2 separate regions of the Homo sapiens genome follow, and region 2 is linked to region 1. The links come from fine-mapping of genetic effects on gene expression. Tissue or cell type: whole blood. Region 1 holds a variant in brackets; the other region holds the start of a gene. All regions are shown on one strand. Distances are from middle to middle.

Region 1 (5,000 bases):
GGTCACGCGCTTGGCGTGGATGGCGCACAGGTTCGTGTCTTCGAACAGCCCCACCAGGTAGGCCTCGCTGGCCTCCTGCAGCGCCATCACGGCCGAGCTCTGGAAGCGCAGGTCCGTCTTAAAGTCCTGCGCGATCTCGCGTACCAGCCGCTGGAAGGGCAGCTTGCGGATCAGCAGCTCCGTGGACTTCTGGTAGCGCCGGATCTCCCGCAGGGCTACGGTGCCGGGCCGGTAGCGGTGCGGCTTCTTCACCCCGCCCGTGGCCGGCGCGCTCTTGCGGGCCGCCTTGGTGGCCAGCTGCTTCCTCGGGGCCTTGCCGCCGGTCGACTTGCGAGCAGTCTGCTTAGTACGGGCCATAGCGAACCAAAACACAGGCTTACCAGCGCAGCGGCGGGGAGAAAAACGAGCTCCTAGCCCCGCCGCAGCCGTCTTTATAAGCACAGTCTTTTCCCGATTGGGCGGAACAATAATTGAAAATCCCGCGCTGGCTGTCCATTGGCTGTGACGTCACCCGTCCTAAAGTCACCGGTTGGCTTGGGCAGATTCCTCCCTAATCCCGCCCACCCCGCCTCACTTTCTACTTACCAGTTGGCGAAGTTTCGCAAGCTTGTTTTTCCCCTTTCCTTCAGGGTGAAAGTCATTTTCCATTGCAGCTTTGTCAGATTGTTCCCTTTCCGCCCTTCGCTTCCTTAGAACACACTGCCCGCAATACCCCCCCTTTCTTGCTGCGCCCTACAGCTCCCGCGTGGAACCTCATTCTTCCATTTGCCCCCCGCCCCCAGTTGCTACTTGGCGGATCGTTTTTCGCCTGTCGGGTGCCTTTTGGGTGGGAGAGGTGCCCGCCCCCAGGACGCAAGATTCCGCCTCCGAGGCCCTTACTCTCCGCCGCCAGGGCGCTTTGGAAAACAAAACAGAAACTAAGACTTAAGTCAGCTCAGTGAAGCCAAGACCCAGCTCCGCCACACTAGCGAGCACTACCCGCTCAGGGCCCTCCCCATCGGGGGTGGGGACGAGGAGCACGTCCCGCTGGTGCCAGACTAGGTCTAAGTGTCCGGCCATAGCCTGCGGAAACCACTAGGGAAGCGCGCGCTCCGCGCGCAACACTTCAGCGCGTTGGGTACTGCCCGCGGCGCTGGTGTTTGTGACTGTGTGGAGCGGACCGTGGCGGCGCCCAGGACGTTTGGTGCCTGCACCTGCCCTGGGAAGTCCTAGGACTGGGGACCCACTCATCGAAGAGCCAAGGCAGTTACGTGCTCCAGATGGAAGACGGCGCGCACACACACACACCCCGCCCCGCCCCGCCCCGTCCCGTCCCGTCCCGTCCCGTCCCGTCCCGTCAGCTCCAGGTTCGCTATTCACTACTGAGGAACGCTGGACTGAGAGTGGCCAGCATTAACAACTCTTTTATTTGAAAACGTGGGTGGCTCTGAAAAGAGCCTTTTGAGTTCACAGGTGCCCCTTCGAGACGCGGGCCGGGCTGGGCCCACTTGGGCCGGACGTCAGCCTCACTTGCCCTTTGCCTTGTGGTGACTCTCCGTCTTCTTAGGGAGCAGTACGGCCTGGATGTTAGGCAAGACGCCGCCCTGGGCGATGGTGACTTTGCCCAGCAGCTTGTTCAGTTCCTCGTCGTTGCGGATGGCCAGCTGGAGGTGACGAGGGATGATGCGCGTCTTCTTGTTGTCCCGAGCCGCGTTGCCCGCCAGCTCCAGGATCTCGGCGGTCAGATACTCGAGGACCGCAGCCATGTAGACGGGCGCGCCGGCCCCCACTCGCTCCGCGTAGTTGCCTTTGCGCAGCAAGCGATGCACTCGCCCTACCGGGAACTGAAGGCCAGCGCGGGACGAGCGCGACTTGGCCTTGGCGCGGGCCTTGCCTCCTTGCTTGCCACGACCAGACATGACAGCGATAGTAGTCACCGAGAGAAACTCCTGCCTGGCGATCGGGAAAGTCGCCGAAAACGCCGCTGCTTCACCTTTTTATAGACAGAACGGCGATTGTCCACGGAGCACTTTGATTGGCTCAAGCAAATTTTGTCCCGATAGCCAATAGGATAGCTCAGCCAGAATCCACTCATTTACATAATCTCGTCTCCCTCGCATTGCGCGCCGCGGAAAACTCGCGAACCATAACGCAGCGTCATGCGCACAGCCTCTGTAAGTACACAGTCGTTTCCGGTAGACCCCGAGCCTACCGCTCTGCTTGCGTTCTCGGGGGTCGGTGTCGGTCTTGGGTCTGGCCATGCCTGAGCCTGCAAAGTTCGCGCCGGCTCCCAAGAAGGGCTCCAAGAAAGCCGTCACCAAAGCCCAGAAGAAAGACGGCAAGAAGCGCAAGCGCAGCCGCAAGGAGAGCTACTCCATCTACGTGTACAAGGTGCTGAAGCGGGTCCACCCCGACACCGGCATCTGGTGCAAGGCCATGGGCATCATGAACTCCTTCCTCAACGACATCTTCGAGCGCATCGCGGGAGAGGCGTCCCGCCTGGCGCACTACAACAAGCGCTCCACCATCACGTCCCGGAGATCCAGACGGCCGTGCGCCTGCTGCTGCCCGGCGAGCTGGCCAAGCACGCCGTGTCCGAGGGCACCAAGGCGGTCACCAAGTACGCCAGCTCCAAGTGAGTCCCTGCCGGGACCTGGCGCTCGCTCGCTCCCTCCCTCCCTCCCTCCGCGGGTCGCCGGCTGCTTTGTCTCCAAAGGCTCTTTTCAGGGCCACTTAACCCCGTTAGTGAAATAAGCTGTTTTCCCACTGCTTACTGTGAGTTCTACTTAGGGGTTTTCCCTCAGCACCTATCCCTTTTCCTGCAGATGATGGGAGAGGAATATAAGATAAAGCTATAAGATGTAGCTTGGTCGAGAACTACCTTGTAGTGACAGGGTCATGTGCACATAATTTGCCTTTTCCAAAGTGAGACGATATGCTACGGGTGCGGTCAATGTAAATCTGCTCAGGAGAGTC[A/G]AGGGAAAAAGTGTTAACTGCATATTGAGCTCGCAAAATTGTGTAGTAACCTGAAAATATTCCTAATAGTTTTGCGACCAAGCCTCACCATATAAACTTTCCTTCCGCACCTGTAGACCTCCATTCTGTGGTTGAAGCAATTTTTGGTTTATATAGCTCTCTTGTCTCAATTTGGTATTCCTTTCAGGTACTGTGAGTCTATAGGTATTTATTTCTGGGTTTCAAGACGTTAAATGCCATCAGAATTGAGTAATGCAAAGGCTGCTGTCATGGATAGTAAAGCTTTTTAGTCAAGTGCTGATAGACAATTCCCCATTGTTATCGTTGGGTATTTTACAATTTTCTGGGCAAGAAATGTAATGAAAAATTAAGTAAGTTTTAAAGGCCTTCGTCTTTGAGACTGGATACCTAAAACAATAGTGTTTCCTAAACAGTTAAAACTTATTTAACCCTGAAGCTTTCGAGACACACAAATATATACAAATATATATTGTATATTTCTTAAACCCCACATAGTTCCACTGATCTAAATCACTGGGGGCGAGAGGCAAGGATAGACAATCTATGACACAACACCAGGTGATTCATAAGTTTGGTAACCACTGACATTTGATTATGCAGTTGCCATATTCCTTAGTAAGAACCTGGTCACAATTTTCACTCACTACCCCAGGCAATTCCCCCTCCCCACACCCCCCTTTTTTCTGAGAATTTCAGTGAGATATACAAAAGTTTCATTTAATCCTTTATTAATTCCAGACTTTATATATTTTTATTAGGATTTAAAATACATTTCAAAAAGATCAAGTGAGAACAGAAGATAAAAGTACCAAGATAAAGGCATAATACAAACTTAGAAAATACATGTTAAGCATACTGCGGCGTCCTGGTAGCCCCTTGCTTTTGTTCACTTTTTTCTCTTATGTACCTACATAAAATCCCAAATAGTATCTTCCAGGATGACACACTTGCTGTCTGCCCCACCCAATTAAAAACAGATTTTTTAGTTATTAGGTATTGTGCTGAATCTACCTTATTTTATTGCCAAAAGAAAAAAAAAAAAAAGCTTTTCAAAGCTTCATCCCCAGGAAACATTTTCCTGCTTTTACACATACCTTATATGGCTCTACTGAGAGATAAGGCCTAAGCCTGAAAAGTTAATTTAAAGCATGGAGGTAGGGGTGAGACAGAAAGACAACAGGGAAAAGTTGAGTTTATAAGGTAAGTATATATCTTCCTTTTAACAGCCACCTGCATGGCGTTCGGTAAATAACCTAATTATATGTGGGGGAAGGTAGTGGTCAACATTTGGTCCTGGGGACTGAGAATAAGAGCAGGAAAGCAATAAACAGCTAACTATGAGAGTGACTTAATGTAATTATATTACCTGTCAATCGCTACTTTTCCTTTCTTACCAAAATTCACACAGGTATGAAAGCAATATGACATTCAGGCTCCATTATGTGTATTTGTGCACATCACTTCCCACGATAAGGGAGAAGAAAAGAAACCACTGCACATTCGGATAAAACATGCTGGGAATACAGCAGTAAACAGAATAGAAAAAGTCTACATTTTAATTAGCAGATAAGTAAAAATAAGTGACTAAATGTATATTATTCAGGGGGCCATATGTGCAATTGCTGTTAAGTAAAGCAGAACATGGAGTGGAGTAGGGATGACAGGTTTCATCAGTTAATACTTGAGCAGAGAGCTGAATACAGTAAGATAGTTGTAGGATATCTTGAGGCAGAGTATTCTCAGAACAGAACATGGTAAGTACAAAGGCCCCAAGGCAGGAACAAGCTTGGTGAATGTGAGAAATATGCAAGCTGGTTAATGTGGCTGAAGCACAGTGACCAAGGGAAAGTTTTACAGAGATCACGGAGGTGCTTGAGGGCTGGATTATGTAGGCCATTAAGGAGCATCACAGGCCACTGCAGAGATTTTGTCTTTTAAATGAGATAGAGTGCTCTTGGAGAATGTGACTGGAGAGGCCGATGGTAGCAGTGGAGATGCAGAGTAGTAGCCGAGATATTTTAAAT
Region 2 (5,249 bases), 74 kb after region 1:
GACTTCCTGTTTTGGCAAATACTAGCTAAGGGACCAAGCCTCAGTTTCTTCTTGTTTAAAAAGGGGAAAGTAAGGGTCGAATGATATAATGTATCTATGCTCCTTACCATAAGTCACCTGGCACATAAAAATGATGAATAAATATTAATTATTAATTTTGTGGTGACAGTAATATAGTGAAATGCCCTATACTACCTCATAAGGTCCCCAGATGAAAGCTATCTTGGATGCTCTTTAGGGTGAGCAGCAGGAAGGGACACTGGCAAGGAGAATCCTGGTTCAGGGCAAAGCACATGACTGTTAGGGGTGACCTAAGTTGAAATCCCAACTCTGCCACTTACTAACTGATCTCAGTCAGGGTAGTTAACCTCCCTAAGCCTCAGTGTCCATCTATTTTAACTGGGGATAATTAAATTGGGAGACTGTTTCTTGGAGTTGATGTGAGAATGTAATCTCACAGTAGATACTCTATGTTAGTTTTCTTCCTTCCTATGATGTTGAAAGTGGGAAAGAAACAGGAAGCAGCAAGGGACAACAGGGGGGTCATACTTAGATGCTGTTGCCCAGCATCCTTGCAAACAGAGTCCCAAGACACCCCTATCTATGTTTCAACTAATTCCAGTAGCTGGGCCCACATTAACTACCTCCAGAAGAACAAGGGAAGATCCAGAAAAGGGGGACCTGGAACCCAAGTAAAGTGGAGGAAAGATGGAAAGCTAAGAAAGAGGTGATGACTGTCCACTGCCACCTTGCTTCAGAATGTCATAGATAGGCCCCCTTTCCACAGATGGGGGTGAGAATGGAAATGACTGTCAAATGCATACATTTCCAACATGAGGTTCTAAGGCCTACAGTTGCATCCCATCCCTCCAGGGCCTCCCTTCCTAATCCCCCTTAATCCTTTCTGCTCCTCCTCCAGGAGTCAAGGAAGAAGGAGTCCACAAACACCGCATTGCGTAGGAGGCGGATGTAGAATAAAGGGGGTTTGGGTGTCCCCCCAAAAAAGACATTCTCCAGAGGAAGGCATGGGATAGCCCCCTTCCTTCATAGGAGCAGAGGAAGCAGGCCTAGATTCTGATCAGAAATCATCCCCCTAAAAATATCCTGCCTCCGGTGCTCCCACCCATCCAGGGCCTTCATTAAAACACACACACACACACACACACGCACACACACACACACGCCCTGGTAGAAGACGGTAAGCAATGCTATGTGGTTCAGAGAGAAGCACTGGCAAGCAGCGCCTTATCCCCTCAGGACAGATGTAAGCAGTGGACCACGGTGACCAGAAGCAGTGACCCCTATGTCACCTTTTCTTCATGGTTCAGGGCCCAACCATCCCCCATGAAAGAGCTGGAACTGCGGAATCCCCTCAGCGCATGGCAATTTGCTAGCTTTCCTCTCTTTCCTAACCAGGATCTCCCCTCCAGCCCTGAAGGAGGCAGGACCCACCAGGAGCCATACTCTATGTTTGTTGACCCTATTTCCCCCTGAGAGGGGCACGTAGGGCAGGGAAGCCTTCCACAACCACAGCAGGATATGAGGTCTCAACAGCCAGCTTCCTCAGGGCCAGCAAGCCCAGGAGGTCAGGAGAGAAAGAAAGAAGACAAATTCTTTGAGCTGGTGAGGAAGTGGTGCTATTTTTAGCCCCCAAAACAGCACAGGGTGGCTAAGCCTGGGGGAGTGAGACAAGACTTGGAGAGGTGGAGGTTAAAGGAGACAAGGTTCAGGGTTACAAGGTCCTAGGCTGGCTGACTTCACCTGACAGGAAAAAATGTGCCCAGGAGATTTTCTGCAGAGGGTGGAGACAGGCAGGGGACTCCAGAGCAAATGCTTTCTTTCAGAACAGCTCATCCAGCCCTGGGTCCAGAACCCCCCACCCTCCCAGTCAAAGCCCCTGACTTTGGGGTCCACCCAGATCCCCAGGCCTTCCTAGCTCAGGTGACAAGGTCATTAAAAAGCAATCACTTATCAAAACGTCCGCGGGGGCGGGGGTAGAATGTGGGAGGTGCGGGAGCACCCCTTCCCCATGACAGCCCGGTCATCGAACTTCAGCCCCCACCCAGGACCATCAAGACTGCGCCTCCCCTCCCCACATCCTACCAAGGTTAGGAAGATAGGAGCACCCACAGTTCTGAGGGATAAAAATGAGGGTGTCAGCTGAGAATGCACACTGAGGAATACGGAGAGGCAGAGAGGGGGACGCAGGGAGAGACCTCCGCATGCACAGACATAGAGACCGCCCCTATCAGCATTTGCAGCGACCCCCCCACACCCCATCTTGCCTCAGCTCCGGAATAAGGGAAAAGCCCCCAGAACTGACTAAATCCCTGCTCTGAGCACCTCCTCCACCCTTGGTCCTGCTGCTAGACAAGTGTCCACCTTCACTCAACATCCCTTCCCCCCACCCCGGAGCAACTGCCGCCAGCCCCCGCCATCCATGCCCCCAACACCTGGCGGCTCTACATCTCTGTCTCCCCAGTATTTCCATTCTTCACTCCCCTTCCCTCCATCCTTCACCTGCCCTTCTTCCCCTGCCCCCCACCCACCCAAGTCCAGGCGTGCACACTGAGGCAGCATCCATTCTCCAGCCCCAGCCAAGGTCATTTATCATTCATCCTGGGGGTGGGGGGACGTCAAGGTGAGGAGGGGATAGGAGTTTGAGGGAACCTCATCCCACCTCACAACCCCACCACCACGTTAATCTCCGAAGGGGATAGTGGGGACTTGGTTAAGGTAGAGAAAAACACCCCTCCTCCCCATTCACCAATATTATACATATGCGTGTGTGTGTGTGTGTCCTGAAGAGCACAACTGAAATAAATGTCCATCCCCAAACCACCACCAACCCACCAACCCCCCTCACCCCTAGAGAGGGGATCGTCACCCTCCCCATAAGCAAAGCATCGGAGGATAAAATGGCTGCAAGGCAAGGCAAAGATGCTTCTGCCAGGGGCGGGGAGGAGGTGAGCGACTGAGAAAGGGGTCTCACCTGGTCTAGGTTCCCCGGGTAAGGAGTCCCGGGCGAGGACGGGGGTCCCGGCCGCGGGCGGAGGCGGCAGCGGCGACTGCTCCCGGCACCAGGGAAGCGGCAATGCAGACCTGCCACCCCCCTTCCACCACTCCAGCCCCGCCTCCGCCCCCCCCTACCCCGCGCCACTGAGCATCGGGAGAGACCATTGGTGGGGAGAGGAGAAAAGAGGATGGGGAGGGAGTCAGGGCACGGGGAGAAATGATGAAAGGGCCGGAGGTTGTCACAAGAACAGCTGGAAATGGCACCCAGCCCTTCCCAGGCCCTTCCTAGTAAAAGATAGAAGGAACTAAAGAAAAAAACAGTGATGTTAGGAAGACAAGTGGGAAGACAGGGAGATGGGGAATGTGGCAGCCCCTTCCTTAGCACCCCAGTCTCAGTATGGCAGGACCCAATAATTTCAGGGGCTTTTGCTGCCTTCAAAACACCTCCCTTGCCTTCTCCACTGCTCTCAAACTCCTTTTTCACAACAGTCTCCCAAATCCAGAGTGCTCCTATTCCAAGTTTACCTGGACATTTTAGAGAAAGCAGAGATAACAAGGTGTGGTTTCTATCCTGAACTGCCAGAGTCAGAGACCCCTGGATTCCTTCCATCTCTTTCCTCACAAAACAGTCCAGGTTACTTATTTACAGTGGACACCTCCTCATCCTGTCCATTCAGTTGGTGGTAGCAGAAGTACTGGGGAAGTTGAGGGATTTTTACAGACCTGACCAACCGGACAGTTCCCCTTCCATTAATTTGCTCCAATGACTCAAAAAGGATCCTCTCAATACCCTTCTCCATTTTCTCTTACTCTCCTCTACCTCCCTCCCCTCCCCTCCACACACTTGTACTTCCCGGGCAGGAAGAAGTAAATTGTTTCAGCTTTTCCCTTCATCTTTCCTTTGCTCTTGCATCAATAACCTGGACTCAGAGATCCAAGACATGCCACTTGGTGACACTTGATGACCATCCCTGCCGAAGGAGTGAGAGGGAATATGGTGATTTGGGGAAATACATCCTGAATGTGTCTATGCCAGATAAGGTCAGGACCTTCCAGACAGCACTGACCTGGGCTTGGACCTGGGTTCTCACTGCTAACAAGCTGTCAACTCTTGGTCAAGTTCTCCACATCTGTGAACTTCAGGTTTCTCATCTGGAAAAGGGGGGCTTGGACTAGATACTGCATCAGGTCCCTCTCAGATCTAATAGCGTGTGATTCTGCCTTACTAAATGTGGAGGCTTCAGAATGCTGATATATATACATGGAGAAGGCTGACAGGCTATGTCCGAAGAGACCACACAGGTAACATTTGCCAGGTTGAATTTACCTCTGACAGGGACACGGGCCTGGGCTTTGCAGACTCCAAAGCTGGATCTTGGAAATAATCATTCATGCCAACAAAGTTCACAATCTTCTGAAATATAAAGCCATAATACATAAATATTAATTTATCATAAATATTTAACTGTCACTCAGACTGAAAACTCATATCTACATGTCTAGTACATTCTCTCCCTGAAGCCAAATCAGAATCATAATGTCAATGTATAAATGCACAATGACATTACTGGAGGATTTGTATCTTTAATGGCATCTGGCCATCTGCAATAAGCAGCCATGCCAATGGGTCCAGAAAACTCTTCTTGGCAACAATCTTCTACCCCCACCTCTTTGCTATTGGCAGCCTTGCCAGCACTCCTGGACTACTCTGAATGTGACGGCTTTCCAGGATGGTGCTTGGACTGGCCTCAGGGACTCTCCCTTTACTAGACTTTCATTGCTGACCCGTCTTCAGGTTAACACACATTCTTTTTCTTTTTTTTTTTTTTTTTGAGACAGAGTCTCACTCTGTCGCCCAGGCTGGAGTGCAGTGGCGCAATCTCAGCTCACTGTAACCTCCACCTCCGGTGTTCAAGTGATTCTCCTGCCTCAGCCTTCCCAGTAGCTGGGACTACAGGCACGAGCCACCACACCCAGTTAACTTTTTTTTTTTTTTTTGAGACAGAGTCTTGCTCCGTCGCCCAGGCTGGAGTGCAGTGGCACAATCTCGGCTCACTGCAAGCTCCGCCTCCCGGGTTCATGCCATTCTCCTGCCTCAGCCTCCCGAGTAGCTGGGACTACAGGTGCCCGCCACCACACCCGGCTAATTTTTTGTATTTTTAGGAGAGACGGGGTTTCACTGTGTTAGCCAGGATGGTCTCGATCTCCTGACCTTGTGATCCGCCCGCCTCAGC

The links. PIP is the estimated chance that this variant, and not a neighbour inherited with it, causes the effect.
Region 2: SV2A starts here. The variant in region 1 is fine-mapped to the expression of SV2A in whole blood (TOPMed, PIP above 0.99).

What each region holds. Positions count from the first base shown.
Region 1 is chr1:149,840,801-149,845,800 of GRCh38, forward strand. H3C14 (H3 clustered histone 14) reads right to left here and starts at 408. Exons shown (of 1, transcript NM_021059.3): 1 at 1-408. The coding sequence starts at 357. H2AC18 (H2A clustered histone 18) reads right to left here and starts at 1,950. Exons shown (of 1, transcript NM_003516.3): 1 at 1,418-1,950. The coding sequence starts at 1,898. The coding sequence ends at 1,506. It also overlaps the pseudogene H2BC19P and a transcript of H4C15 not described here. RefSeq lists enhancers at 1-249, 4,525-5,000. The variant A/G (reference allele first, on the strand shown) is at 2,956.
Region 2 is chr1:149,914,747-149,919,995 of GRCh38, forward strand. SV2A (synaptic vesicle glycoprotein 2A) reads right to left here and starts at 3,098. Exons shown (of 13, transcript NM_014849.5): 1 at 2,993-3,098. RefSeq lists a silencer at 2,942-3,011.